Linked DNA regions of Homo sapiens. The protein of the gene in region 2 purifies or fractionates together with the protein of the main gene of each other region. This does not show direct contact. Each region holds a gene or a part of one and is shown on either strand. Other genes may lie near its edges. The genes, in order: HMGCL, IBA57, MCEE and CZIB.

The links.
Region 1: the proteins of IBA57 (region 2) and HMGCL purify together in Homo sapiens (co-immunoprecipitation; one large-scale study listed by IntAct). This does not show direct contact.
Region 3: the proteins of IBA57 (region 2) and MCEE purify together in Homo sapiens (co-immunoprecipitation; one large-scale study listed by IntAct). This does not show direct contact.
Region 4: the proteins of IBA57 (region 2) and CZIB fractionate together in Homo sapiens (co-fractionation; one large-scale study listed by BioGRID). This does not show direct contact.

What each region holds. Positions count from the first base shown.
Region 1 is NC_000001.11:23,821,587-23,829,521, forward strand, and holds the start of HMGCL (hydroxymethylglutaryl-CoA lyase, mitochondrial isoform 1 precursor), read right to left. Parts: upstream 3,844-7,935; 5' UTR 3,830-3,843; coding exon 3,770-3,829; intron 1-3,769. UniProt on the Homo sapiens protein: Mitochondrial 3-hydroxy-3-methylglutaryl-CoA lyase that catalyzes a cation-dependent cleavage of (S)-3-hydroxy-3-methylglutaryl-CoA into acetyl-CoA and acetoacetate, a key step in ketogenesis. Terminal step in leucine catabolism.
Region 2 is NC_000001.11:228,170,855-228,178,296, forward strand, and holds part of IBA57 (iron-sulfur cluster assembly factor IBA57, mitochondrial isoform 1 precursor), read left to right. Parts: intron 1-3,715; exon of another isoform or gene 3,716-3,756; intron 3,757-3,837; coding exon 3,838-4,175; intron 4,176-4,267; coding exon 4,268-4,659; 3' UTR 4,660-7,442. UniProt on the Homo sapiens protein: Mitochondrial protein involved in the maturation of mitochondrial [4Fe-4S]-proteins in the late stage of the iron-sulfur cluster assembly pathway. Operates in cooperation with ISCA2 in the maturation of [4Fe-4S] proteins.
Region 3 is NC_000002.12:71,107,016-71,115,000, reverse strand, and holds the end of MCEE (methylmalonyl-CoA epimerase, mitochondrial precursor), read left to right. Parts: intron 1-4,142; coding exon of another isoform or gene 4,143-4,163; exon of another isoform or gene 4,164-4,238; intron 4,239-4,878; coding exon 4,879-5,031; 3' UTR 5,032-5,314; downstream 5,315-7,985. UniProt on the Homo sapiens protein: Methylmalonyl-CoA epimerase involved in propionyl-CoA metabolism.
Region 4 is NC_000001.11:53,211,523-53,218,222, reverse strand, and holds the end of CZIB (CXXC motif containing zinc binding protein), read left to right. Parts: intron 1-19; coding exon 20-51; intron 52-1,363; coding exon 1,364-1,441; intron 1,442-2,166; coding exon 2,167-2,232; intron 2,233-3,486; coding exon 3,487-3,564; 3' UTR 3,565-4,124; downstream 4,125-6,700. Other genes in the region: CPT2 (carnitine O-palmitoyltransferase 2, mitochondrial isoform 1 precursor), read right to left, coding at 4,628-4,959.

The DNA.
Region 1 (7,935 bases), about 200 Mb from region 2:
AGGTTGAGCCTGCAGTGAGCTATGACTGTGCCACTACACTCCAGCCTGGGCAACAGAGCGAGACCCTGTCTCAAAAAAAAAAATTAAATGACTCTATATGTCACTTGATGCTTTCCAATTAAGAAAAGAAAAGACTGTATGAGTTGCCTCCTCTGACCTCCTGGAATCATCACTCGCCCCTACTGTCCACTCCCAACCTCCACCCAACAGGTTGCTAAGCTCCCTGCCTTCTCTTCCCTCTGCCCCAGGGTTCCTCATCTGGCTTTTTTTAAAAAAACTGGCTGTTCTTACATCTCTCTCTCATCTTTCAGTTGCAGAGAGGCTTCCTCTGACCACCCTTTGCAAAGCTGCCATTCCTCCCACCCCCATTATTTTCGCTATTGCAGAGCTATAATTATTTCCTTCAAAGCACGATAAAGAATGCCTACTCAATGTCTCTTCCAGTAGAACATAAGCTCTTTGAGGGACCTTGTCTGTCTCAACTCCACTTCATCCCTAGTGTTTGGCACCGTGTTTGGTACAAAGTAGCCACTCTTTAAAGTTATTAAAATAACACATAAACCATGAAGGACACAGCTGTCCCAGAAGAGAGCAATTACTGAGTGTGGGGAGGAGTAGTCAGTCCTGGACTTTTCGGGGTATGGGCGAGATGCAGGAGGGCTCTCTTCTGTTACAGTCATAGGCTGGGTGATGACAAGCATGGGTCTAAGGGGAGGTGACACCCCCAGTAGCTGAAGACAGTTTTTACAAAATGCCCTGAGTCTCCTCTATATAAAGTCAGCTCAAAATCTTAGTCTTCCCTATCAAGTAACACAATACTTTTTTTTTCCTCTTTCCTCTACCTGTCTTGATACTGTAACTTTTCAAATCAACTTTGTTTTACAGATTTAATCTGGATAAATATACTACAACGAGGCAAAGCGGAAGGCACACTGTGTGATCCGCTAAGGATCTCAACCCCCTGAAGTCCCCCAGGAATTCCCTGCTAGGAAGCAGCTGGAACATGTACAACTCACCTGACTGGCCTTGTTTTAGCCAACAAGCTTTCTTAGAGACTAAGGCGATGAGCCATTGAATTTCATGACGTCAACAGGCTAAGTTGGAAGGTCCCTGCAACTTGAATCTCCCTCCAACAGGGATGTTCAGCCTCTGCTAGTATATCACCCTAAAACTATCTCACTGGAACATAAGTTTCATGAGACAGGGACTTTGTTTTATTCAATGCTGTATTTCTAAGGCCCTGGGACATAATAGGGGCTCGATAAATAACAGTTGAGTGTTGCTGAAATAATCTAAAACCTGCTTCAGGCCAAGCGTGGTGGCTCACGCCTGTAATCCCAGCACTTTGGGAGGCCGAGGTGGGCAGATCACCTGAGGTCAGAAGTTCGAGACCAGCCTAGCCAACATGGTGAAGCCCTATCTCTACTAAAAACACATAAATTAGCTAGGCATGGCAGCAGGTGCCTGCAATCCCAGCTACTCGGGAGGCTGAGGCAGGAGAATTGCTTGAACCCAGGAGGAGGAGGTTGCAGTGAGCTGAGATCGTGCCATTGTACTCCAGCCTGGGGTACAAGAGCGAGACTTCTTCATCTCAAAAAAAAAAAAAAAAAAAAAAGCTTCTAAAACCTGCTTCCAAGCTGCTTTTATTAGAACATTATAAACTCAATTCCACTTCCTTCCTTCCCCGTAACAGCTCTTCACATAATAATTCAGTTTTTAAACACTTAATATTTGCCAGGCACATACAAGAGCCATTTACATATTTATTTATTTATTTATTTATTTGAGATACAGTCTCATTCTGTCTCCAGGCTGGAGAGCAGTGGCGCGATCTTGGCTCACTGCAACCTTCACCTCCCAGGTTCAAGTGATTCTCCTGCCTCAGCCTCCCGAGTAGCTGGGACTACAGGTGCGCACCACCACACCTGGCTAATTTTTTGTATTTTAGTAGAGACAGGATTTCACCAGGTTGGCCAGGCTGGTCCCGAACTCCCGACCTCAAGTGATCCACCCACCTCAGCCTCCCAAAGTGCTAGGATTATAGGCATGAGCCACCACGCCTGGTGAGCCATTTACATATTAACCCATACTGTCCTCTCAACAATCTTATCAGGTAGGAACTATCATCATCCCCATTTTACTGTAAGAAATCTAAGGCCCCACTTGGGAGGCTGAGGCAGAAGAATCGCTTGAACCTGGGAGGCAGAGGTTGCAGTGAGCTGAGATTGAGCCACTGCACTCCAGTCTGGGTGACAGATGACAGAGCAAGACACCGTCTCAGGAAAAAAAAAAAGAAAGAAAAGAAAAGAAATCTGAGACCCAAAGAGATTAAGTAATCTTCCCGAGGTGACATGGGGAGTTACTCACTGAGGCAATATCTAAACCTGGCAGTGTGGCTCTAGAGCACAAGCTCCTAACCTCTGGGCCACTGTTGCCTCTTTACCACCGTTCGTTCGGTCCACAGTCTTCTCCTGGTTAAACATCCCGTTCCTCCTCTGTAAAGCTCTGCTCAGAGAGGGTCCCCCTAACCACACAAGTACTGTGCCACAGTGTCCTGAGGTATGGTGTACCTGCATCAACACCAACAGCGAATACTGACTAAACCCAGTGTTAAACTACAGGCCAGGGACTATTATTATCCCAACTCCGTAGGTGAAGAAACTAAGCCTCAGAAAGGTTACCCAAAAATCACAATTAGAAAGTGACAGAGCTTGGACTTGAACCCATATCTAGGCCTAATACTAATACTGGTTCCTATGCTTGGAACCCCATGGAGGGCCATCTCATTACACCAAATATTTCTTAAAAGCTTATTAATATCTACTATTGCGTTTAACTTTCCAAGTTGGAATTGCCATCTTCATTTTACACATGAGCAGGTGGTGCAGGTGAATGGCCAAGTAAAGATATTAACGTGGCTTTCTGAGAGGGACCCAGTGCCAGGAGTGTATTTTTCCCTCTATACAGTTATAACTCCTTCTCAACTCCCTAAGGTAAAAATACCACCACCGACTGATCACTTATTAGGAGCCAGAACACTGCCAGATGTGTTACTTACATTTTCTCTAATTTCCAAAACAACCCCAAGGGAATGTTGTCCGTTTTACAGACGAAAGAGCTGAGGTTTAGAGAAAGTAAATAACTATGTCATTAAGTCTAGAAAGTGGCAGAACTATTGGGACACCCTAGCTTCAGCTTTTATTTTTTCTGCTCCATACAGCTACGTCTCCCACACTTTTTCTGCGCTGAGAATGGGAGAGGGGAAAACATCAGGATCGAACAGGATCAAAGTGCAATTCCAAGGGAATCACAGCTTGGCTCCAATCAACGCAAGTCCCGCTCGGTAGGCTGGGATAGTTCCCCAAGCATCTCTAAAAGCAACAACAGTTGGAAATGGAGACGAAGGAAATGGAAGCGTGTTCTTGATTTTCACTAATGAAGAGTTGGAGAGGTCTGAAGTTCAATTAGAGGGAGAAAGGGGCCAGGGTCATCGGAAAGGGCCCTGGGCGGGGAATCAGGGCACCTAGGATGGCGTCCCAGGTCTCCATGACCCAGACAAGTCACTCCACCTCTCCGGACCTCAGTTTTCCCATCCCCTTCAAAGGATTTGAGGGGAAAAGGGAGGGTCCAGGACTCCAACGCCCTCCCGACTCTGGCCTGAGAGCTGTCCGGCCTCGCCTCTAAGAGAGCAGTCACCACGGGCCAAGCCCCCAACCCTGACAGTCAGAGTGCCTGCAGGGCCGCCGCCTCGGCGGCTCGGGGCACTTACAGCCCGGAGGGACGCCAAGCCCACCAGTCGCCGCGGAAGCGCCTTCCTCATTGCTGCCATCTTGGCCCAGAATCCCCCGCGGCAGTCCAGCTGGGCCCCGCGTGACCGATGGCTCGTCTGGTGGGCGCGGCCCCGCCCCCGCCCCTCCGCCGTGACTTCCGAAGCTGGCTCCACCCCCAGCCTCTCTCCGTTTTGATTCCGAGCGCCTCTTCCATGCCAGGCCAAGTGAGACGCTAGGAATATAAAGATGAACAGAATCAGCCTGGACACCATGTAATCCTAGCACTTTGGGAGACCGAGGCGGGTAGATCACCTGAGGTCAGGAATTCGAGACCAGCCTGGCTAACATGGCGAAACCCCCGTCTCTCCAAAAAATCCAAAAAAAAAAAAAAAAAAAAAAAAAAAAAAAAAAAGCCGGGCGTGGTGGTGGGCGCCTGTAATCCCAGCTACTTGGGAAGCTGAGGCAGGAGAATTGTTTGAACCCGGGAGGCGAGGTTGCAGCGAGCGGAGATCGTGCCACTGCACTCCAGCCTGGGCGACACAGTGAGAGCCTGTCCAAAACAAAAAACCCAAAACCAAACAAACAAAAACATGAAAAGAAATTAACCAAATTCTGTGGCTTCTTGTGTTTAGAGTGTGGGAGGTGTGAGGAGACACATATTAATAGTTACACAAACAGTTGTGTCATTTCTAACTTGCACTATAAGAAGCAACGATTTGCTACTCACTGTTCCGAGTTCTTAGCACGGATTAACTCACGCATCACGATCTTCAGGATTCAAACACAGGCAGGCAGCTCCAGAGAGGGGGCATCCTTAGATTTCATACCTTAAAAAAATGATTAAGATTTATCTAGGTGTACTTTCTGAAGGGCTGAAAAAAAAAAAAATCTATCCAGGTGAAGAGGATACAAGAAAAACTTTCCAGACGGTGTAGCATTCGCAATGGCCCTGAGGCAAAGAAAATGCTGAGAACACTGTTTTTCTCTCTTTTGTTTTGTTGGTTTGTTTTGTTTGTTTGAGATGGAGTCTCACTCTGTCACCCAGGTTGGAGTGCAGTGGCGCGATTTCGGCTCACTGCAACCTCCGCCTCCCGAGTTCAAGAGAGTCTCGTGCCTCAGTCTCCCGAGTAGCTGGGATTACAGGTGTGCACCACCACGCCTGGCTAATTTTAGTGTTTTTAGTAGAAACGAGGTTTCACCGTGTTGGCCAGGCTGGTCTCAAATTCCTGACCTCAGGTGATCCGCCCGCCTTGGCCTCCCAAAATGCTGGGATTACAGGCGAGAGCCACCGCCCCCGGCCAGAGCACTGTTTTCAAACTGTATGTTGTACCCCACTAATTGGTCACAGTATCAATTTAGTGGGTACAAACTTTATTTAAAACAAAGAACTAGAATTTTATCTATCTATCATCTATCTATCTATCTATCTATCTATCTATCTATCTATCCATCTATATTTATTTATTAAGACGAAGTCTCACTGTGTTGCCCAGGCTGGAGTGCGGTGGCGTGATCTCGGCTCACTGCAACCTCTGACCCCGGGGTTCAAGCGATTCTCCTGCCTCAGCCTCCGGAGTAGCTGGGATTACAAGTGCCCATCACCGTGCCCAGATAATGTTTGTATTTTTAGTAGAGATGGAGGATTTCACCATGTTGGCCTGGGCTGAAGCAATCCACCCTCCTCGGCCTCCCAAAGTGCTGGGATTACAGGCGTGAGCCACTGTGCCAGGCCCCAAATATAAAATATTGCTCTATAAAATAATAAAAGAGTGATCTAAAAAAATAAAAATAATAATAAAAGAGAAAAGGCTGGGTGCAGTGGCTTACACCAGTAATTCCAGCACTTTGGGAGGTCGAGGTGGGAGGATCACTTGAGGTCAGAACTTGAAGACCACTCTGGCCAATAAAGTGAGACCCCAAGTCTATTCAATAAATAAGAAAAATAGCCAGGTGTGGTGGCTCATGCCTGTAATCCCAACACTTTGGGAGGCCGAGGTGGGCGGATCACTTGAGGTCAGGAGTTCGAGACCAGCCTGACCAACATGGTGAAACCCCGTCTCTACTAAAAATACAAAAATTAGCTGGGCATGGTGGTGCGTGCCTGTAATCCCAGCTACTCAGGAGGCTGAGACAGGAGAATCACTTGAACCTGGGAGGCGGAGGTTGCAGTGAGCCGAGATCACGCCACTGCACTTCAGCCTGAGTGACAGAACGAGTCTCTGTCTAAAAACTAAATAAATAATAATAATAAATAAGAAAAATATTAGAATACAATGTATAAAAGTAGTAAAGCCAAGTACTGCTTTGCAAAACTTTTGTTCATTATATATATCAACAAGGTTGCAATGTAAAATAAATTTCTTACTGTGGGCTGCACTTGGAATTGTTTGAAAACACCTTTTTAGCAAGATGAAAAGAAGGCTGGAATGATTGGAGAGCGGGGAGGGAGTAGGAAGGGGACTTCCTACTAAGATTGGAGAGTTTGGCAGGAACTGTCACAGGGCTTTGGTGAACACACTAATACCAGCTGTCCTAATAGCAGTGATTTTGAATGATTTAGAGTAGGGAAATCTGATTGAATTTGCATTTTTAAATAGTCACAGGGGCTACTGGTTGGATGTTAATTGTGTGTCTGGTATTCTCAGGGAAGGCAGTGAAGGCACTTTCCTTGACTTTAAGGAGCTCAGATTTTATCTAGGGAAAAAACAAGACATGATAATTATTCTGTTAGGCTTCAGCAGCACTGGAAATTTTCTCTATCATGACACTGGGAGCATTACTCACAGAATTCTCAAACCTGTGTTAGAGGGCTGCACTCGGCCCAAACATACTGGCATGGTATTATTTAAAATATGTCTTTCAAGACTTGTACACTGAAAATTATAAACCATTGGTGAAAAAAATTAAAGAAGACATAGTGGTAGGACATCCCATGTTCATGAATTGGAAGACTTAATACTGTTTTTTAGTTTGTTTGCTTTTGCTTTGAATTTTTTAATTTTTAATTTATTTTTATTGTTATTTATTTTATTGTTTGTTTACTTATTTATTTATTTTTGAGACAGAGTCTCACTCTGTCACCCAGGCTGGAGTGCAGAGGCGCAATCTCGACTCACTGCAACCTCCGCCTCCCGGGTTCAAGCGATTCTCCTGCCTCAGGTTCCCGAGTAGCTGGGATTACAGGCACCTGCCACTACGCCCAGCTAATTTTTGTATTTTTAGTACAGACGGGGTTTCACCATGTTGGCCAGGCTGGTCTCAAACTCCTGACCTCAAGTCATCCGCTCTCCTCGGCCTCCCAAAGTGCTGGAATTACAGGCGTGAGCCACCACACCCAGCCTTTTTTTTTTTTTTTTAGATGGGGTCTCACTCATTCTCTTGCCCAGGCTGGAGTGTAATAGTGCAATCATAGCTCACTGTAGCCTCAGCCTCCTGCACTCAAGCCATCCTCCCACCTCAGCCTCCTGAGTAGCCGGGACCACTGGTGCATGCACCATCACAACCAGCTAAGTTTTAAATTTTTTGGCCGACAATGGTCTTGCCATGTTGCCCAGGCTGGTCTTGAACTCCTGGGCTCAAGTGATCTTTCTTGTTTTGGTGCCCCAAAGTGTTGAGATTAAAGATGTGAGTCCCAGCACCCAGCCAAGAAGACTTAATATTGTTAAAATGTCAGGGAGGTGGAAGCTGCAGTGAGCTGTGATTGCACCACTGCACTCCAACCTAGGTGACAGTGAGACCCTGTCTGAAAAAATATAAAAAATAAAAATAAAAATTACCATATGATCCAGGAATTTCACTTCTAGGAATATACCCAAAATAATTGAAAACATGGACTTAAACATATGTACATATACCAATAGTGTTGCTATGTTCCTCATAAATACATATTCTTGTATATACAGAATATAAATATATTTATTTATATATTTATATATAGAATGTATAGAATATAAATTTATTTATAAATATACATATATATTTATATTCTGTATATACAAGAATATATATTTATGAGCAACATAGCAACATTATTGGTATGTGAATATCTGTTTAATTCCTTGTTTGCAATTATTTTCAGTATATTTCTAGAAGTGAAATTCCTGGATCATATGGTAATGTTTGTTTTTATTTTTGTTTTATTTATTTATTTTTTTGAGACTGAGTC
Region 2 (7,442 bases):
GGAGTCAGGCCGGGTCCCAGAGCAGTGTTTTCCTGAACATGACTGGAAACCCTTGGATCTGATGGCCAGGGGACCCTTTCTTTCAGTTGGCTGGGCCAGAGCCACCCCTGACCTCCCTCCTCTTCCTGCACCCTTGCTCCCACCGGGGCTTCTGGGCTCAGCAAACAAAAGCACAGGACACCCAGGTCCGTCTCAGACGAGCAACGGATGATCTGTAGGTGCATCCTATGCGGTATTTGGGATATACTAAAAAAAGTAATTTGTTGTCGATGTGAAATTCTGATTTAACCAGGTACCCTATATTTTCTTTGGCAACCCTGTCCCCTGCGCCCCTCAGCGGTATCTGGAAATATTTTTGGTTGTCATGATGGGGTGGGGTACAGGCCAGGGGTGCTGCTTAGCATCTGGACAGCCCCCACTATGGAGAATGATGAGGCTGAGAAAGCTCCCCAGGCCGGGGCTCTCCTGTGAGGCAAGTCTCCTGGCAGTCTTCAGGTGTGGCAGGGGTTGGGGTGGGCCCGGGGGTCATGTCCCAGCTCAGCTGGTCCTGAGAAGCTGCCTGGTAGACAGTCACCGGCACAGAGAGCTGGAAAGTGCCCTCGACCCCAGAACCTGGGTCCTGTGAGGACATCCACCCTGTGTGAGGCCAGGGAGTGCTCAGCAGATGGGGGCAGCAGGGGGTGTCAGCATGGGTGGGGGTTCCTGCCAAGGCAGGCAGCTGAGCTGGCCCCACCTCAGAGTGCAGGGGCCCTCAGCTTGATCTTTTCTGGGCTCCACTCTTGACTGATGGACCCATGGGGCACCCTGGCCCCACCCTGCCTGCCTTGCCCCAGCTCCTGCCCTTGCCCTGTAGGGCTCTGCGGCCTCCCCTGTGCCTGTGTGCCTGGCTCACTAGACCCTGGACCTGTGGTCCCTCAGCTCCACTCTAGTCCCCTTACTCTGTCCCTCTACTGCCTGGCGTCGCTCAGCTCCTCCCTGCCTGTCCGGCGCCCAGCATCCTGTGCCCATGACCTCACATCTGTCCCTCTGCCCGGGTCCCCCACTCACCTGTGTTTTGGTCCATCTTTGTCTGCTGACCCCACTATAGATTTTAAAAATACAAATATGCATGCACGTGGTTAAAAACTCGCTGATGTCAGATGGCTGGGATGAAAGGACTGCCTGCTGCCTTTCCTCTTGTAGTGCTCGGACACCTCTGCAGGCGAAGCTCCTTGTTTTTTTTTTTTGTTGTTGTTGTTGTTGTTTTTTCACTTCTTATTTTGAAATAATTATAGATTCACAGGAAGTTGCAAAAAAAAAAACAAAACAAAACCCGTGGGAGAGATCGCACGGACCCCTCCCCAGTTCCCCTGATTGCACACACAGGGCATATCTGGGGTCTCTGGATTTGTGTGTCTTACTTTGTGCGTCTGTGCACGCATGTGTATAACTGCAGTTTTATCACGTGTGAATATCTGTGGCCATTCTCAGGCCCACGCGGCTTCCTGCTCCTGCCCCTGAATGGGCACCCCCAACACCCCAAAACCTGTTCTCAGCTGTAAAATCGTGTCATTTCAGGAGTGTCATAGATGGATGCATCGGCCTGTCACTTTTTAGCCTTACCCTTTTCCCTCACCATAGTGCCCTCAGATCCACCCACTTCTGTCCATCTCCAGCTCCCTGTTCTTGCTGAGAAGTCCCACATGGTGTAGTGGCACCTTGATTCTCCCTTTCTGGCTGTTACCAGTATAGCTGGCTGCTGTGAGCTTTCGCTGCAGGTTTTGTGTGAGCTGCAGTCTTCGTTTCTCAGTGATCCATGCCCGGAAGTGAGAGGGCCAGGTCGTGGAGTAGTTGCTTGTTTGGTGTTGTGAGGACCTGCACCCTGTCTTCCAGAGGGCCACCCGTTTTGCCTCCCCACCAGCAGCATGCCAGTGACCTGGTTTCTCCTCATGCTGGCCAGTGTTCAGGTTCACCACTGCATCTGTCTGGGCCACATCGCCTGTGTTTCCCTGGTGGCGTGGTGACCTTTCCGCGGCACACCTGCGGCTGCCCCTCTGTGCTGTCCTTGCTGTTCCTCCCGTCATCTTAGCCCACGTGTGTAAATGACATATGTTCCCCTCCCTTGTGGGTGTTGTTTTTGATGTCCTGTGACCGCTGTCCTGGAGTGTGGGCCAGATTCACTGGCTGTCACAGCTGGCTATGCCCACCCTCCCTGCGGCAGGGTCCTCAGTGAGACCTGTGCCTACTGGTTCTGGGTGATGAGCGTGAACGTTCTCCGTGGCTGCTGGCACGTGGGCATGACCACAGGGTAGAGTGAGACTGCAGAGATGAGGGCAGCAGGCCCCTGCTTGGCACCTGAAGCCCTGGGCAACTGGCAAGGACTGAGCCCTCTCCTGGCTGGAAGGGGCTGGGCCACCTGCTCTTGGGCTTGTCTCTGGAAGGCCCTCTGGGGGTCTTACTACCTCCCTGTCTCAGCTCCCACCAGCCTGTGAAGCCCTGTGCAGTCCATACCTGCAATCAACCCCAGCCATGGAGGTGGCTGTACCCCAGGTGTCTCCACTTAGTGCCCCCCCCCCCGACATGCCCCACGCTGCCCAGCCTCTCCTCTTCCCACCATCCGTCTGGTCAGGGGTCATTCTTGTGGTGCCTGCCCAAATCCTCTGAGGAGGGCTGCCTGGAGTGCAGGTCAGAATGGCTCTGGGGCCCCGATTGGGTTCTGAGACTTGGCTTGGGGAGGCAGGTGGTGGGCATGGGCAGAGTGGGCCTCAGGCATGCTGTACCTCCCTGACAACCTCCTGGGCTCCTTGCTCCTCCCTCCTGCCCACCTTAGGACCCTTGGGCTCCTCGATGGCTTCCCTGGGCTGGAACAGGCAGGTCTGGTTCTCAGTGGCTGTGCACACCGTTCCCCTGCGGGGCCCTGCCCATCCCTGCTCCCACATCCAGCGGACTGTTGTCATTTCTGCCCTAGGCTCTGGGACTACTCCGGATGATGCCCTCGGGCAGGCTATTGCAGTTCTGCCAGTCCCTGGGCAAACAGGGTCTGTCTGCGCTGGCCCCTGTGAGCTCGTCTTTGCCTGCTTAGACGAGAGCTCCGGAGGCTCAGCTGCGCACGGCTGTGGGCAGGGCTTTCCATGCGCTGGTCCAGGTGTACCCTGCCTGGCCTGCTGTGCGTTGTCTGCACGCACCCTCGCATTGCTGTGGGCGCGGCACTCTGCGCTGGTCTCCAAGGTGCCCGCATCTAGCTGTGATGCGCGCCTTGGGAGGTGCTGCCTGGTGTGGCTGTGGGCGTGGCTCGCTGTGGGCGTGGCTCGCTGTGGGCGTGGCTCGCTGTGGGCGTGGCTCGCTGTGGGCGTGGCTCGCTGTGGGCGTGGCTCGCTGTGGGCGTGGCTCGCTGTGGGCGTGGCTCGCTGTGGGCGTGGCTCGCTGTGGGCGTGGCTCGCTGTGGGCGTGGCTCGCTGTGGGCGTGGCTCGCTGTGGGCGTGGCTCGCTGTGGGCGTGGCTCGCTGTGGGCGTGGCTCGCTGTGGGCGTGGCTCGCTGTGGGCGTGGCTCGCTGTGGGCGTGGCTCGCTGTGGGCGTGGCTCGCTGTGGGCGTGGCTCGCTGTGGGCGTGGCTCGCTGTGGGCGTGGCTCGCTGTGGGCGTGGCTCGCTGTGGGCGTGGCTCGCTGTGGGCGTGGCTCCCTGCGTGTGGTGACCTGGGCGCTTGCCTTAAAGGCGCAGCCCCTTGTGGCTGAGGGCAGAGCTCTTTGCGTTGGTCCACGGTGTGCTCCTCTGCCCGGGTAAGGCGCGCTCCCTCATGCAGCCCTTTCTGGCCCACTCAGTTGGTGAGCTGCCATGCGCCCCTGCCTCTCTCCCTGCAGGCTCCAGGAACACTCGGAGGTGTCTGGCTTCCTTCTGGAGTGTGACAGCTCGGTGCAGGGCGCGCTGCAGAAGCACCTCGCGCTATACAGGATCCGGCGGAAGGTCACGGTGGAGCCGCACCCGGAGCTGCGAGTGTGGGCGGTGTTGCCCAGTTCCCCTGAGGCCTGCGGGGCTGCATCGCTGCAGGAGAGGGCAGGGGCTGCCGCCATCCTCATCCGCGACCCGCGAACAGCACGCATGGGGTGGCGGCTCCTCACCCAGGATGAAGGCCCAGCCCTGGTGCCCGGGGGCCGGCTCGGGGACTTGTGGGATTATCACCAGCACCGATACCTGCAAGGTATGGGTGGGGTGGGCACGCTGGGCTGGATTGCACGGGTGGAGCTGGACGATGTTCAATTCTCGCTGGTTTCCCCCCTCCAATCCCTGCAGGCGTTCCTGAGGGGGTCCGAGACTTGCCTCCTGGGGTGGCCCTGCCCCTGGAGTCCAACCTGGCCTTCATGAACGGCGTGAGCTTCACCAAAGGCTGCTACATTGGCCAGGAGCTGACGGCCCGCACCCACCACATGGGCGTCATCCGCAAGCGCCTCTTCCCTGTCCGGTTCTTGGACCCCCTTCCCACCAGTGGCATCACCCCTGGTGCCACGGTGCTGACTGCCTCAGGACAGACTGTGGGCAAGTTCAGGGCTGGCCAGGGCAACGTGGGGCTGGCCCTGCTGTGGTCAGAGAAGATCAAGGGTCCTCTGCACATCAGAGCCTCTGAGGGTGCCCAGGTGGCCTTAGCCGCATCTGTGCCAGACTGGTGGCCTACAGTCTCCAAGTAGTCCGAAGCCTTGGCTGGCGCAGGCTGATGGGGAGGCTGGGGCCTGGGGCCTTTGGCCTCTGTCCAGGGTCTTCCCGTCCCATCTGTCTGCTGCGCCTACTGGGTGGGAGCCCTGGTTTCCATCTGGGAAAGTCCCCCTTGTAGGTGCCCTGCCTGGCCCCACCCATGCTCAGGGGCCCCAGGCACGTGGGTTGTTTTCTCCCTGGACTTCCTGTGGCCCCAGAGGAGCCCACCGTGTGAGTGCTGGGCTCCAGATGGCGCCGGGTCCCAATCGTGGCTCCACACAGGGTTGTCTGGGAGGACGGGACGGTGTCTCTGGCCAGCACTGGCAGCTTCCGGGCCTTGTACCCCACTCTGCCTGGCATGAGCCTCATGGGGGGTTGGTCCCTGTGCCTGGAAGCGGGGTGGTGTCCAGGGTCTGCAGGCTGGGGCTCGGGCTTTGGGAGTTGTTTCACTGTGCTTGCTTCCAGCATGTCTCAGGGTGGGGCTATGCGTGGTCTAGAGGGGTCTGGGGCATTGGATCAGGTGGCATGTGGGTGTCTACACATCGAGAAGCACACAGGGATGAGCCACTAGGTATCCCATGCTGGAGGCTTGTGGAAGGCTGTGCCCATCTCCCATGTTTCCCCACCTCTGTTCCTCCTCAGAGCCCTCCAGGAGCGTGGGGTGGGGGCCAGCGCAGGGCTCAGGAGCCAGCAGGGCAGAGTTCTGCCTGTGTGTGCTGGGTTTTGGCATAGCCTGTGTTTGCAGTGAGAGTGACTTGCTGTCAGTCACGGGGCACAGCCTCCTGTTCACCCACTGGCTTCCCCCTTCCCACTGAAGTGTGAGCTCTATGTTTCAGGGCATCTATTAAAGAGTGAGCCACAGGCAGCCCCTTGGGAGCTCTGGTTTCATTTGGGGGAGAGGGAGGTGGGGGCTTAGTTTTTGTGATCTGGCTGACTGGACCCCGGGAACAGCGCTCCTTTGAGAACGCCCAGACCTACCAGATGAAGCACTTGGCATGGCTGCAGGCCAGCAGGGGAGGCCTCAGAGGCCCAGGCTGGGCACGTGGGTGCCGAGTCTGCAAAGGACAGCCCCATGGCTGTGAGCTGTCGGCTGCAGGGCGCAGGGCCTGGGGGGCAGGCGTTTGGGCCACCAAGCTGGACGTTAGGGTGGCCACAGAGGGCCAAGCAGGCAGGGAGCCTGTGCCGCCATCCTGGGGGGCCACAGGTGCTCTCTAGAAATCTGCAGCCATGGCGGTTTTGGGGTCAGGGGTCTAAAGGCAGCTCTGAGCTGCAGTGTAGTTTGTGATCACCCAGGAGGAGGGTGTAGAGCGGATGGACGGGAGGAAGCGGCTGCAGCTGGAGGGAAGAGAGGGGCCGTCCAGCCTCACCCGCTGCAGTCAGCTCTCCTATGGGCAAGGAAACAGCTAGGTGGCCCTGACCCCTGCGGTCCTGAGAGCCGGTGGCCTTCAGCCCCTCTTGGACAGGTCATGGTCTGGAAGCGCCCAGCGCAGGATGGATTCCAGACCAGCATCCCTGCAACCTTTTCAGCCCCACTGGCTGCTGCTTTAAACTGGCATGGAGACATTTGATCAGCTTCCCAGCCAGTTTTCTCTCCAGCTCAGCCAGGAGTGGGTGCCTGTGGCCTGTGTCACCAAGAGCTGGTGTCTCCTGCATGAGGGGCATGCACCCCTGGAATGAGGGTCTGTGCCTCGAGCTCAAAGTGTCCCGGCTCTGTCATCTGCCTGAAGTTGCCTGGCTTTTCCAGTGGGGCCTCCTTGAGTGCTGCAGCATCTGGGAGCATCCTAGCCTGTCCCGTGGGTGTGGCTGGGTGAGGGCTAGGAGGTGAGCCAGGAAGGAAGCACTCCACTCCAGAGTGAGGTGCCGCCTGAGCCATCCTGTGCCCCCTCAGTGTCTTCAGGTCTCTGCAGGTGTCAGGATCTCAAAATACTTGGTTCAGATCAAACACATTTCGTGTTCTTCTGTGTCCTTTTTTTTTTTTTTTTTTTTTTTTGAGATGGAGTCTTGCTCTGTTGGCCAGGCTGGAGCTCAGTGGCACAATCTCTGCTCACTGCAACCTCTGCCTCCCAGGTTCCAGTGATTTTCCTGCCTCAGCCTCCTGGGTAGCTGGGACTACAGGCACATGCCCCATGCCCGGCTAATTTTTGTATTTTTAGTAGAGATGGGGTTTTACCATGTTGGCCAGGATGGTCTCAATTACAGGCATGAGCCACTGTGCCCAGCCTCTTCTGTGTCTTTAAAAAGGAAAGTGTCAGTCAACAAAAGAGCCCCTCTGTCATACAAACCAAATCAGTTTTCACCAAAATGTCCTTAGTCCTCTCAGAAAGGCCTGGCCTTTAGGACCTTGGAAGCAGGCCCTAAAGCGCATCGGCAGGGTCAGAGCTTTGTGTTCAGGAACACTGGGATCTGCTGAGAGCTGGTGTAGCCGCTCCAAAACTGCACACTGCTTTTCCTGTCTGCTTTAGTTTGTGTTGTAAAAACATAGGAAGTTCGTGTGTGTGTGTGTGTGTGTGAATTCAAGGCATAAGGTGCAGTTGTGTTATGTGGGTATAGTGCATGGTGGTGCAGTCTGGGCTTCTTACCCTCACACCTCCTGCCTCCCCTCGTTAGAGTCCCCCACATCCGCCTTCCACTTTCTGAGCCCACATTGCCTGTTGGGCAGCTCCTGGTTATGAGGCAGGACGTGTGGTGTTTGACTGTCTGTTTCTGAGCTGTTTTACTTAACACAGTGTATATGGTGCATCTTTAGGAAAGCATGCTTGTATTTTCCTTTCAAAGCCAG
Region 3 (7,985 bases), on a different chromosome or scaffold from region 2:
GATAGAATGTTCCATAAATGAAAATATTCATAATCACATGTAGCATAGGAGTTATCAAAAGGGCACTATGGAAAAAGTCATGATTATATCATGAAATTGTTCAAACATATGAGAAGTAGAAAAAAAATCATGTCAGTACTTTCATCACCCAGGTTCAACAGTTTTCAAGCTCTTGCTACACGTCATCTTTTTTTCTTTTTTCCTTAAATTATTTTAAATGAACAACATGTCATTTTACCCTTACTCAGTTTGGGTCTCTAAGAAATACAAAAATAACCACGGTGACATCATCTTTATTTTCTGGCACTTCAGTCAAAATTAAAGGGAAATCTTTTGGCACCATCTATACACAGCTCATAAATTAAATTTCCCAGATTGATTTACAAATGTCTTTTTATAGTTGATTTGCTCTAATCAGGATAAAAACAAGATCCACTCATTATAAACAGTGGTTAATCTCATCAGATGCTTTAAAAAAATTATGAACATCTTATAATAGTTTGATACATTTATCACAATTAGTGAACCAATACCAATTCATTGTTATTAGCTAAAGTCTGTACTTTATTCTGATTCCTTTAGTTCTTACCCAGTGTCCCTTTTCTATTCCAGGATCCCATCTAGGATTTCACATCACATTTTTTTTTTTTAATTTTATTTTAAGTTCCAGGATACAAGTGTAGGACATGCAGGTTTGCTACATAGGTAAACGTATGCCATGGTGGTTTGCTGCACCTGACAATGCATTACCTAGATATTAAGCCTTGTATGCATTAGCTATTTATCCTGATGCTCTCCCTTCCCCCACTCCTCCACCCCTAGCACATCACATTTAGTCATCGTATCTGCTGAGGCTCCTCTTGCATGTGGCAGTTTCTCAAACTTTCCTTGTTTTTTTGTTTTGTTTTGTTTTCTAACCTTTTTCTAGGATCTCCTTTCCTTGTTTCTGATGACCTTAACACTTTTGAAGATTACTGTTCAGTTATTTTGTAAACTGTCCCTCAGTTGAGATTTGTGTGATATTTTTCTTATTAGACTCATGTTATTGATTTTGGGAAGACCATAGAGGTAAAGTGTCATTTTCATCACATCATATCAAGGATTCATACTATCAACATGACTTACTACTGTTGATATTAACCTTGATCTCCCAGGTGAGGAGGTGTTGTCAGGTTTCTCCACTGGAAAGCTGTTCTTTTTTTCTCCTCCATACTATCCTCTTTTGGAAGGAAGTCATTATGCAAGGCCCACACTTAAGGAATAGAGAGTTATATCAGTATGGACTTGTGGATATTTATTTTATGACTTGCATTACAATCTAATACTACTTTTTTTCCCCTCAGATTGTTCCAGCTTTGGCCATTAGGAGCTCTTTCAGTTGATTCTTATGTCCCTTTGACATACCCCGATCATTTTTGGTTTTGTGTTTTGTGTTTGTTTTTTAAGCACTTCCTTTCTTTTTCTGGCACTGTAAGATACTCCAAATTCATCTTCTATATGAGATGCTCCAAATTCATCTTCTTTACTCTTTGCCCTAGCCATATAATTAGACATTTCATCTAGGAGCCCTGGTTCCTACTACTGGAGAATGGTATTAGAAGCCAAGATCTAGGTTCTAAGTGTGCTTATTGCTACTGGGTGTGTCATTGGTTCTTGCCCTACTGAGCCAGGACAACAGGGAGATATATATGTGTGTATACTGTATATATACACATATCTATACACATTTCTGTATATAACTATATTATAGAATTCATGAAATGTCATAAACTCCTCAGAGCATACTGACGTCTCCAGCTCTAATCCATTACCACATAGACCACACTAGCCTTTATCTTCTCATTCCAACAGTGAGAAACTTAGCTCCCACTATCAGCCATCCATCTACTTCGTTGTTCAATTTCGGTATGATGTGTGGTAGTTATATTTGTCTTCTAGGGCTGCTATAATAAATGATCACAAACTTAGTGGCTTAAAACAGAAATTATTCTTTTCACAGTTCTAGAAACTAGAATTCCAAAATCAAGAGGTAAAAAATATGGAAGAAAAAGAAAACAGAATAGAGCATAAGACAGATGTAGGACATGGTCAAAAGTTCTAGCAGAATATAGTTGGAGTCCCAGAAAAGGAAGAGAGAGAAAATAGAACAGAAGCAGTAATTGAAAAAATAGTTGACAAGGACACTACCAATCTGATGTAAAACATCACTCTATGGTTTCAAGAAAGTCAGCAACCCCAAGTAGGGCAAACAGAAAACTACACCAGGCCGGGCAACAGTGGCTCACGCCTGTAATCCCAGCATTGTGGGAGGCCAAGTCGGGCAGATCACTTGAGTTCAGGAGTTCGAGACCAGCCTGGCCAACATGGTGAAACCCAGTCTCTACTAAAAATACAAAAATTAGCCAGGCATGGTGGCACATGCCTATAATCCTAGCTACTCAGGAGGCTGAGGCAGGAGAATCGCTTGAACCCAGGAGGCAGAGGCTGCAGTAAGCCAAGATCATGCCATTGCACTCCAGCCTAGGTGACAGAGTGAGACTCTGTCTCAAAAAAAAAAAAAAAAAAAAGGCAGGTGCAGTGGCTCACGCCTGTAATCCCAGCACTTTGGGAGTCAGAGGCGGGCACATCACAAGGTCAAGAGATCGAGACCATCCTGGCCAACATGGTGAAACCCCTTCTCTACTAAAAATATAAAAATTAGCTGGGCATGGTGGCGTGTGCCTGTAGTCCCAGCTACTCTGGAGGCTGAGGCAGGAGAATTGCTTGAACCCTGGAGGCAGGGGTTGCAGTGAGCTGAGATCGCACTACTACACTCCAGCCTGGGTGACAGAGTGAGACTCTGTCTCAAAAGAAAGAAAACCACACCTAAGCACACCATAGTCAAACTGAAAATCAAAGATGACAAGAAAATCTTAAAAGCAATCAAAGTAAAAAAGACATATTATAGAATGACATGTAATGACACTTTTTAGTTGCTGACAGAAAAAACCTGCCAATTTAGAAATCTGATTCCGGCCAAGTTGGTGTAAAAGAGATCAGTTTATCCTCCCTGAAACAAACAAGCAACCTAGACAAAATACATGACATAATGGATTTCTGGCATTGGACATCAGGCAGCACAGGAATTGATTTCTGAGAGAGGGTAAACAAACAAGATGAGCCCTACAATTACCCAGTTTACTGGCTGTAGAGAGTTTCCAGACTGCAGTGCAGGAAGGGGGAATCCACGTGGAACTTAGTGGTCTCCCTGAGTTGCGGAGATAGGAGTTGGAAGTCTGAGGAGGCCATGGTGCTAGAGTTCACAGCTCTCTCCTGGAAAGGAGAGCTGCACAGAGAGTGAACTCTAAAGATCTGTAGTACCTTTCATGTCTTCATCGGAGCTTCGAGTATTGCACGCATGTTAGGAAGCTAGAATAGAACCCCTTGAAAGGATTAGAGGGAATAATCCACACACAGAGGTGGGGATAGTTTTTTCTTACTAGTCATAGTAATTTCCGTAACATTGGGAAGAGTACTCAGAAGGGCTTTGGCTTGGTAGTGAGGAAAATTAGTCCTAGACTAAAAGCTGCTCCAATCCCACCTAACGCAGCAGAAGAAAAGCTTAATAATATTGATATGAATTTAAAAATAAGATAAAATTGACAATGTCTGACATCAGTGAGGACCAATTTTCCTCACTAAGTGGGTCGAGCCGTTCCTGCCACGAGCTTCTAGTGCATGTTCTATTCTGAAAAAGATGAGAATTAACCAGCTACAGTGCAAGATGTCATGAAATGAGCTGTGTTCAGAATCTAGGCACGTGTGACTTTGACATATCTATGAGGTTTAAAAAAGAAATATCAGGAATACAAGTAGAATATGTGCCATATGAAGAAATCATAGCTTATTTATGTAACATTTAGTATCCTCATTAGCTGTTTGACTGGTTTTAGAATTCAGCATATAATCCTTGGCTCTTTGGAAATAAAATTGTATAAATACTAATATTTATTAGATCTGAATGGTAGGTACATGGGTGTTAAACTAGTCTCTGTGCTTTTGTGTGTTTTTTTTAATTAAACTAGTGATTTTAATTAAACTAGTGATTTATGACTGCCTAGGAATGTGGCCATTCATATCATACCTTTTCATCCATTTCTTAGGTTCCCAGTCTAAGTGGGTGACTTTCCAAGATAGAGGCAGATCATTTCTCCGTCAAGTATAGAGAGACACATCTGCTCCTCCTAGAGTGTCCATAAGTATGAAGAAAATAGAAATAACTTAGAAGAGGCTGCAAAAACATTAAAGTTTGAAATTTTTTTGGGTGGGGAATAACATTTTGATGGCAATTTAATAGTGATTTTCATGTGTGTCTTGATAATGTCAAAGGTAATAACCAGGTGTTTTGGCAGGGCAAGTTTTGGGGATCAGGGAAACACTCATATTTGCTAAGTACCTATTATGCCATAAACTGTACTGAAAGCTTTTTATCTGTTACCTCATTTTAATCTGTAGTCAATTTATGTGGTAGACCTCATTTGCCTGTTATAGATGAGGACCCAGGGTTCTCAGGAAAAAGCAATGTCTTCAATCTCACTAATAGTACTGCCAGAATAAACTATTATAAAGTATATCATACATGATTTAGATTATAAGAAGAAACATTTACTAATGGTGAAAATTCTGAGCATTGTGGTTGCTTACCTAGAAAAATTTAGTAACTTCTCTTACTTCTCTGAAAATTTTAAGCTTATTTTTTATGATGATTTAAGAATGGTCCTGCCCACAGGCAGAGGAGATAGACTGCATGAGCTCTCAAAGTTTTTTCTAAGTCTTATGATACTATAAGTTGGTATTTTTATGATCTCAAATGTGTTCAATTTATTTCCCTTTCTTAAGGTGGATAATATTAATGCAGCTGTGATGGATTTGAAAAAAAAGAAGATCCGCAGTCTAAGTGAAGAGGTCAAAATAGGAGCACATGGAAAACCAGTGATTTTTCTCCATCCTAAAGACTGTGGTGGAGTCCTTGTGGAACTGGAGCAAGCTTGATTTATATTTGCAAGCAACTAAATTAATTGACCTGAAAAAGCCTATCAAATACTATCAAAATGTACTATGACATTGAGTCCTTCACTGCTTCCATCATGTAAAAGTTCACAGTTAAAGACTGAATTACAGAAAGATTAAAATATATACATATATAAATACATAAATATGTATATTATTTAGATTAACAAACATATTTGTTAATTTGAATTTGAAGAAAATCTTGATTACTAATTACTTAGGGAACATTATTAAAATCATATAGAAATAAATTATTCCTCTTCTACAATGGGGTAATTGAATGTAATGTGTTAGCTGTGTACAAGGGTATGTGTGTGATGGATGGATACACAAAGGAGTTATGAAAGTATGACAATTTTGTGGCTAATATTTGGGGCAAAAGTTTCTAAGAATGTTTTGGAATACTTTTTTAGAGCAAGCTGTGTAAGATTAGGGAATTTTAATCTCAGAAGTTTTGCTCTTCAAAAACAACTCGTGGTCACAGTTTCCTCAGGGTCCAGGTGTTTTGGGTGCTAGGGCTAGATGTATAGGAAGTTTTGTGGAAAACCTGGTGCGTCATCTAGTAGGCATGTAGATGTCTGAATTATTTTTTTAAATCAGTAGTAATTTGTAGAGTTAGGTATCACGTAGATGCTAGAACACCACAACAGGTCCTAGGGGAATATACAAAATGAATAGAAATCCACTGCCAAGATGCTTATGGTTCATTTGGGGAGAGTACTGCTTGAAATAAATGTAAACACTTACAAAACAACATCTGAATGAATTAAAAAGGAAAGGAAAGAGAGAATAGATCTCAGAGGATAGTCAGACTCAAATATGTTAGAAACAAGTTTCAGATGAATTTCAAGGATTACAGATGGATGCATTGAATGCATAGTGGATGGAAAAGTGGCTAACAAGTTCATGGATGAGTGGATGTTGAGTAAATGAGTAGATATGTAGACATTGAACTTGTTATGGAAGACAAGTATAATATCCAATTATACTTTTCATTTAAAAGTTAAAGTAAAAATTACAACATTGATGTGGTTCTCAGTGTATGTAGAGGAAGTATTTTAGACAATTACATCACAGAGTGGGGGCAGTAAAAGGGACTTAAATGGTGGTTAAATATCCACATTCCACTTCAAGTGGTAGATGTTGATAGTAGTAGACTGCAGTAAACTTCATGTGTGTATTGCAGTCTGTAACCACTGAAAAACTATATGAAGAGATACACTCAAAAATGTAGATAAATCAAAATGGACTACTAAAGAATGCCCAAATAACCCACTTGAAGACAGGTAAGAGGAAACAGGAAAAAAGCAAAACAATAAAATGACTGACCTATAACCTCACATATCAGTAATTACATTCAATGTAAATGGTCTAAACACACCAAGATTGTGAGAGTGAATTTAAAAACCTGACCCAACCAAATGCTAACTACAAGAAACTCAAAATATCAGTAAATTAACAATGATTTATCAGTAAATCTCAATATCAATAAACTAAGAGTAAAAGGATAGAAAAGATACACCTTGCAAACAGTAATTCAGAGAAAGCTGGAGTGGATGACTTACTATCAGACAAGGTAGACTTTAGGACAAAAGAAAATTGCCAGGGACAAAGAAATACATTACATAATGATGAAGAGGTCAGATCACAAAAAGACAACAGGTGTGCATTAACCAAATAACACAGCTGCAAAGTATATGATCTAAGAATTGATAGAACTAAAAGGAAAAAATGGACAAGTTTACAGTTTACAGTTGGGGACTTCAACACCCCTTGTTTAGTAATGGATAAACCCACTAGACAAAAAGCAAGTGCGTGGGAGAACTGAACAGTACTATCAGCCAATACGTAATACACATTTTTTGGGCATTTATGGGACATTCACCAAGATAGACCATATCTTGGGTTATGAAACAAACTCTAACACATTTAAAGTAAGTGAAACATATAAAATATGTGACCATAAATGAATCAAACTAGAAATCAATAACAACAGAAAAACCTCCCCAAACTTGTAAGTTGTCAAAGAGGAAGTCTCAAGAGAAGTAAAATACATCCTGAGCTGCATGAACTTGGAAATACAGCAATCATTTTTTATAAAAGGTATTTATTGCTTTAATCTATGAATCAATAAAATTTTGCTTTCATAAGAAGAATGAAATGTGATCACAAGAAATGCAAAACAGTATGTTTAGTAGATGCTGGTGTTAGCACCCATCCACTATTTCTTCTTTAATAGAGTTCTGACTTGGTTAGGTTCCCATCCTTATCCTCTCCCACACAGGTAAAATTCTCAGGTAAAGCCCCAGGATTAGACTGAAATTACATCACCCTTGCCAGTGATGGGTTCAATGATGTGGTTCATAACTACATATGGTTATGTAATTCATATGTGGACTAAAAGCATGAAGAAAGGTTTTCTAGAGACATCTGGAAATGTTCTTTCCCACATCTAGGTGAGAACTATGAGAAGTCAGCCTCTCTCCCAACAGAGTTGAACAAGGAAAACAGGTAATTTGGTTGCTACCAGCAACTATCCAACAACTATGGGACAAACAAAAACCCAAAAACCTTTAGGATAATGGTGATCCTGGTTGGCAGAGTAGAGAGGCAGAAAAAAAAAAACTTTTCAATGACACTTTAAAAAAAATTAATTCATTGGCTGGGATTGGTGGCTCACTCCTGTAATCCCAGCACTTTGGGAGGCCATGGCAAGTGGATTGCCTGAGCTCAGGAGTTCAAGACCAGCTTGGGCAATATGGCTAAACCTTGTCTCCACAAAAAATAGAAAAATTAGCTGGGCATGGTGGTGTGCACCTGTAGTCTCAGCTACTCAGGAGGCTGAGGTGGGAGGATCATTTGAGCCTGGGAAGTCAAGGCTGCAGTGAGCTGTGATTGTGCCACTGCACTCCAGCCTGGGTGACAGGGTGAGACCC
Region 4 (6,700 bases), about 170 Mb from region 2:
GTTCTCTTTTCTATTTCAGAGATTTTAAGCAGCACCATCAAGCCTTACAATGTAAGTTTGCTGCTGTAGTGGCAGGGATGGTGGGCTTAAATCCTAACTGGAGTTAGTAGGTCTGGGTTCTAGAGTCATGCCTGCATCAGAGTGACCTGCCATAGGACATTCACTCATGAACTTAGTTCTTCTTTGACTCAGTCATTTATCCACTGTACACTGAGTGCTTGGTATATTGCCTCTTGCAGTGCCTTCTTATGAGGGCTGGGCTGTGAGAGCTCAGGGGACCTCTGACACAACCTAGCTGTTCAGTTTGCATCACTGAGAGCACTTGCCTTGTCTTCATTTTAGGGGACTAGCAAGCTTTCTCTGAAACCATGGGTGGGGTAGTCGTTTGGTGCATCCCATCCTTTATATCATCAGTGTTAACAAGTTAGCCCAAAGGTGAGGGAGGGTGTGCTTTGGATCTGTTTGTTTAAAGAAAGCCAGTTATATGTATTCACCTATTCCTTATTTGGTATTTATTTAAAGTATCTTGAGTTGTGCCAAATTCTTGGCTTTGTCCTGAAGTTAAAGAGAAATTAAATGAGGACTCGCCTTCACGTACATAATAATCTAGTGGAAAATACAAAAAACAAGAATCGAACTAGGGCCCTAACAGAGAAGTGCCTTACCAGTGCCAGAGATGTGGTCAGTGTGCAGGAAATTACTTTACAGTGAATGACAGGATGAGACTGAATGTAGGGCATGGCACTTGTGGTCCCTAAGCCCATAGGTCAGGTAGGCATGAATTTCCTGGCCACCTGCCCCCCAAGAGGTGCCCCCTCCACATACATAACCATTTCAAAGGCTATAAGACAGCCCTCTGCCCTTACTGCATGGCAGATGGTCAGCAAAAGGCTATGGTTAAGTGTACTGGGTCTGTTTGGATGATCTAGAGACTTTGGAGCTTAACATTCTTGTTCATATTTTTGGTGTTGATAATTTTATTTACTATTTATTGAGCACTGTGCTGGGCACTTTATATGCATTTCAAAATCTGACAGTAAAATTGTAGAGGTTTCCTCGGCTCTATTTGACAGTTTAGGAATCTTGGGCCCAGAGGGGAAGATAGGCAGAGCTTACCTTACATCCAGGCAGGTTGACCCCAGCATCCACGCTCTTCTGCAGCCTCCATGTCTGCTGTCTACAGAAAGCTTCATAGGGAGCAGGTGCCCAAGGCAGGCTTCCTCTAAGAAGGGGATGAGTTCTTCCTGGGTCTCATACTAGGCCTCCAGGGGCAGTAAGTGCCCATTTGGCAGGAAGGAGAGGGGCCATGGGGTCATCCTGAGAGCTCATTTGGGCCTGCCTCCTCAACACACTTCCTTTCTAGGCTGAAGACAATGAGAACTTCAAGACAATAGTGGAGTTTGAGTGCCGGGGCCTTGAACCAGTTGATTTCCAGCCGCAGGTGTGTGTGTATCTTTCTGGGGAATCTTTGTCTTTGGGGAGGGGATGTATGAAGTGACAGCCAGAACTGTGCTACCTACAGATACCATGGACTAGACATTCTCCTTTCTAGCGGTAGTAATAATTGTCCCTTAAGTGGCTGCTGTATGCTTGGGCACCCATGCCATCATTTTTACATGTTACCACATTTAATTCTTATGGTAACCCTATGAATTTATTCATCCTGTTCTTCAGATGAGGAAGGAACTGAAGAGATTTTGCAACTTGCTCAGGGTCACACAGTAAGCAGTGGAGCTATAGTTTCAACCCAGATCTATCTGACTTGAGCTGGTGCTCATCCCCCTTTATTTGTGCATGTTTCACCTCACAACAAATCTGTGAGGTAGGCAGAAGAGCAAATACTTCATCCCCGTTTTATCAATAACTAAGGTCCAACCTGGGAAATGACATGCCCAGGAGCCTTCAGCAAACCAGGGCTAGTGGAAGGGATTACGCTGCCCCTGCTGCCTTCTGGTCCAAGGCTGTAATTCAGAGAAACCACCACTCTAGTTCTGAGGCAGCTGCCGGGTCCTGGAAGCTCAGCAGTTATTCCAAGACAGGTACTCATACTGCATCTCTGTCCTCCATCCCAGAAGTGTGAGAAGAGCCAGCAGCCTGGCCGGCCCTTACTTATAGCCCAATGCCTTCTTTTGCCAAGACTAACTGGTACCTTCTTGTGCCCTGCAGGCTGGGTTTGCTGCTGAAGGTGTGGAGTCAGGGACAGCCTTCAGTGACATTAATCTGCAGGAGAAGGTATGAGACTTGGGGGCTTTGGGAGGTACTGTAGGGCACCTGGTGGGAATTATTTTTTTGGTGGACAAGGCTCATCAATGGAAAGCCAACTCTGTATTTTTGTGCTTTTTGTTAGTGATTTTGCTGTTGAAATGGCCACAGGTATAGTGCTAAAGTGCTTTCTAATGTTCCTACGTATGAGAAAGCTATGATGCCCCTTACAGAGAGAATACGTGTTAGATAAGCTTTATTCAGGCATGAGCTATAGTGCTGCTGGCTGTGAGTTCATGAATCAACAATATATATTAAATAAGTTATCTTTAAACAGAAACACATAAAGCTAGATTATTGATTGGTTGATGAAAATGTGACCAGAGGCTCATAGGAACCTAACCCTGTATTTCCCCGGGGAGTATTCATTCAGTATTCCCTAATTCAGTGTTTGTGGTGGCTTTACTGCACCTAACTACCATGAAGAACAAGAAATAGTCTGTATTACTGGACATATTACTACCCTGCAGATAGAAAAGCCTTGTGCTCAAGCCTTGAAGGAAGGACAAAAACTTCATTTCATTTGCTCAGCACCTAATAACAGCAGCTAGCATCTACTGAGCTCTTACATGTGCCAGGCACTCACTATGCTGAGTGCTTTTATTTTATTTTATGTATTTTTTGAGACAATCTCACTCTGTCGCCCAGGCTGGAGTGCAGTGGTGCAATGTCAGCTCACTGCAACCTCTGCCTCCTGGGCTCAAGTGATCCTCCTACCTCAGCCTCCCAAGTAGCTGGGATTACAGGCGCCTGCCACCATTCCTGGCTATTTTTTGTATTTTTAGTAGAGACCGGGTTTCACCTTGTTGGCCAGGATGGTCTCGGACCCCTGACCTGAAATGATCCACCTGCCTTGGCCTCCCAAAGTGCTGGGATTACAGGCATGAGCCACCACGCCCGGCTGCTGAGTGCTTTTAAATGTGTTACCTCATTTGATTCTTTCAACATTCAATATGAACTCCATTGTCCTTTTTTTGTTTTTGTTTTTTTTAAATAGAAGACAGGACTCGGAGAAGGGACTCAGAGAAGTTAAGTGATTTGCCCACAGTCATACAACTGAAAGAGCTAGAATTCAGGCCTGAGCTATCTGGCTCTGTTCAGGGTCATACATGTTCATGATTATTTGAGTCAGAGCCTGAGCTGGGCCTTTTAAGTCCCAGTTTTCTGCTCTCCACATGGCTGCATTCTGCGTTGTGAGGCTAACAATGCCATTTTGTTTCCCAGGACTGGACTGACTATGATGAAAAGGCCCAGGAGTCTGTGGGAATCTATGAGGTCACCCACCAGTTTGTGAAGTGCTGATCCCTCTTCCTTCCCAGTTGCCCTTAAGAACTGAGAAAGGACAAAGTACTCTAAGCAGCAGAGCCCACAGAGGCTCGTTCCTTTGACCCTTGTCTCCTGGTGGCTATACGAAACCTTCACAATCTGCATGCTGGACTTTATTACAGCTTCCCAAGCCCCATCAATAAAGCCCCTGTTCACGCTGCACTGGTGCATGAAGGTGAAGTAAGGAGGCAGCTACTCCCTCCACAAATAAGAATTCGTGCAGCAGCAGTTCACTCCTTAGGAAAATGAAGAGTATTTTTAAGGAGATGGTATCTCCCCAGTCAAGGGCAAGTTTACAGAGATGAAACCGCGATCCCACCATCACTCAATGAGCCAGAAGCCAATGGTGACGTACTGTTACCTGAACTTACTGAACTTGCTGTTGGAAAGATCTTTGTGAGGATTAGGAATTAGGTTAAAAGAAATTAAGAACCATCTTCAAGCAAAAATTAAACTTTATTTCTGCTTAAACAATAAATACACCTGAGTTAGTTTTCCAAACCTTTCCTCCTGATTAAATGCCCTTAAAACTTAAATCTCTTGTTATCTTCAGTTGTGATCTAGTCCCAAGTGGAAATTACGTTTAGCTTTAAAACCATGAATTTAAAGCTCAAGCCTGTAGCTGGCTGCCTAGGCAGCTTATGATTAGTTTCACAGAATAGCACCCACTGGCTACACAGGCCCCAGTTTTTTTTTCTTTTTTGTTTTTTTGAGACAGTCTCGCTCTGTCGCCCAGGCCGGAGTGCAGTGGTGTGATCTCAGCTCACTGCAACCTCCACCTCCTGGGTTCAAGCAATTCTGCTTCAACCTCCCAAGTAGCTGGGATTATAGGCACATGCCACCACACCCAGCTAATTTTTGTATTTTTAGTAGAGACAAGGTTTCACCATGTTGGCCAGGTTGGTCTCAAACTCCTGACCTCAAGTGATCCACCCGCCTCAGCCTCTCAAAATGCTGGGATTACAGGCATGAGCCACCATGCCCGGCCTCCCAGTTTTCATGATGAGGAAGTGATGGTAGCTTTTCATCTGCCCAGAAGTTAACTTTTGATGGATTTGCCTTCTAAGGCATCAAACATGTCTTCTAAGGCCTTCTCCACACATTGGAGAAACTCCCGGGCATTGCGGCCTGGGTAGGAAGAGACATTGCAGCCTATCCAGTTGTCATGAACAGCATACCCAACACCAAAGCCATCAGAGACCACAGGGGCAAAGCCCCCAAGGTTCACTGCTGGGCTGCTCAGTGTGCTCGTGGACAGGACATTGTGGTTTATCTGCCCGTATGCAGGGTCCAGGTAGAGCTCAGGCAAGATGATCCCTTTGGCTGCTGCCAGATGCCGCAGAGCAAACAAGTGTCGGTCAAAGCCCTGGCCTGTGAGAAACAAAATGGAAAACCAGAGTCTCAGGATGGAAAAGGACCTCAGGAAAACCTCCCAACTCACCACATGGTAGGAATACCCCTCACAGCATCCTTGAGAGTGGGGGAAGGCTCTACCTCTATGCACACCACCAACTGACTAACCTTCAGAGCAGCTCAAGCTAGATTATTTTAAATTATTTAGGAAATATATTATGTCATGTTACATTTAAAAATAGCTGTCAACAGCTGAGCTAAAAATGAGCCTAAAAGGAAAGCATAATTTTAAAGATGTGAAATCAGTTTAGTCAAAGAGTCAAGACAGTACAGGAAGACAGCTATGGACTCAAAAACTACAATAAAACTAAAAGTCTGATTCAAGTGTAAAAGAGAAGATTGAGTCAGTGGAACAAAATGGAAAGTCTGTTTGACCAGGGTTCGAATCTCAGTCTTACTACTAACTTGCTGTGTAACGGGGCCAGTGGCTTGGTTTTCTCCCTATAAAATGGAGGAAGAGAAGATTAGAATGTCTTGGAGGTCCCTTTCACTTCCAGCACTTCATAGCAACATGAAAGGACAACTATGACCCTCCAGGTCCTTTCCAGGTCTTGAATTTTATCAAAAAAAGGTAATGACGGATGACAATTGAGAAGAGCTTCTGAGATAACCTGTTTACAGAGAGCAGACACATTACAACTGAGGTGAAGCTAGTGGGGCCGTAAGTTTAGAAATCCTAAATTTTCAAAAGTGAGTCTGATAACCAATCAGTAATAGAAAAAGGTTGGGTGCAGTGGTGCATGCCTATAATCCTAGTGCTTTGGGAGGCCAAGGCAGGAGGATTGCTTGAGCCCAGGAGTTTGAGACCACCTTGGGCAATACAGTGGGACCTCATCTCTACAAAAAATTTTAAAAATTAGGCCCGGCATGGTGGCTTACGCCTATAATCCCAGCACTTTGGGAGGGTGAGGCGGGTAGATCATGAGGTCAGGAGTTTGAGACCAACCTGGCCAACATAGTGAAACCCCGTCTCTATTGAAAATATAAAAATTAGCTGGGCATGGTGGCATAAGCCTGTAGTCCCAACTACTCAGGAGGCTGAGGCAGGAGAATCGCTTGAACCCAGGAGGCAGAGGTTGCAGTGAGCTGAGATTGTGCCACTGCACTCCAGCCTGGGCAACAGAGCAAGAGTCCATCTCAAAAAAAAAAAAAAATTAAAATATCAGCTGGGCATGGTGGTGCATGCCTATAGTCCCAGCTATTTGGGAGGCTGAGGCAGGAGGATTGTTTGAGCCAAGGAAGTTGAGGTTGCAGTGAGCCATGATTGCACCACTGTACTCCAGCCTGGGTGACAGAATGAGACCGTGTCTCCAAAAAAAAAAAGGCCAGGTGCGGTGGCTCACGCCTGTATTCCTAGAACTTTGGGAGGCTGAGAGGGATGGATCACCTGAGGTCAGGAGTTCAAGACCAGCCTGGCCAAAATGGCAAAACCCCTTCTTTACTAAAAATGCAAAAACTAGCCAGGTGTAGTGGCGGGTGCCTATTATCCCAGCTACTTGGGAGGCAGAGGCAGGAGAATCACTTGAACCTGGGGGTGGAGGTTGCAGTGAGCCGAGATCACGCCATTGCACTCCAGCCTGGACGGAGGGAAACTCTTGTCTCCAAAAAAAAAAAAAAAAAAGAAAGAAAAAAGAATTAATGCGTCACAGCTGAAAGTGACCTTAAATGAGGACAAAGACACATGCATTTCCCCACCCCT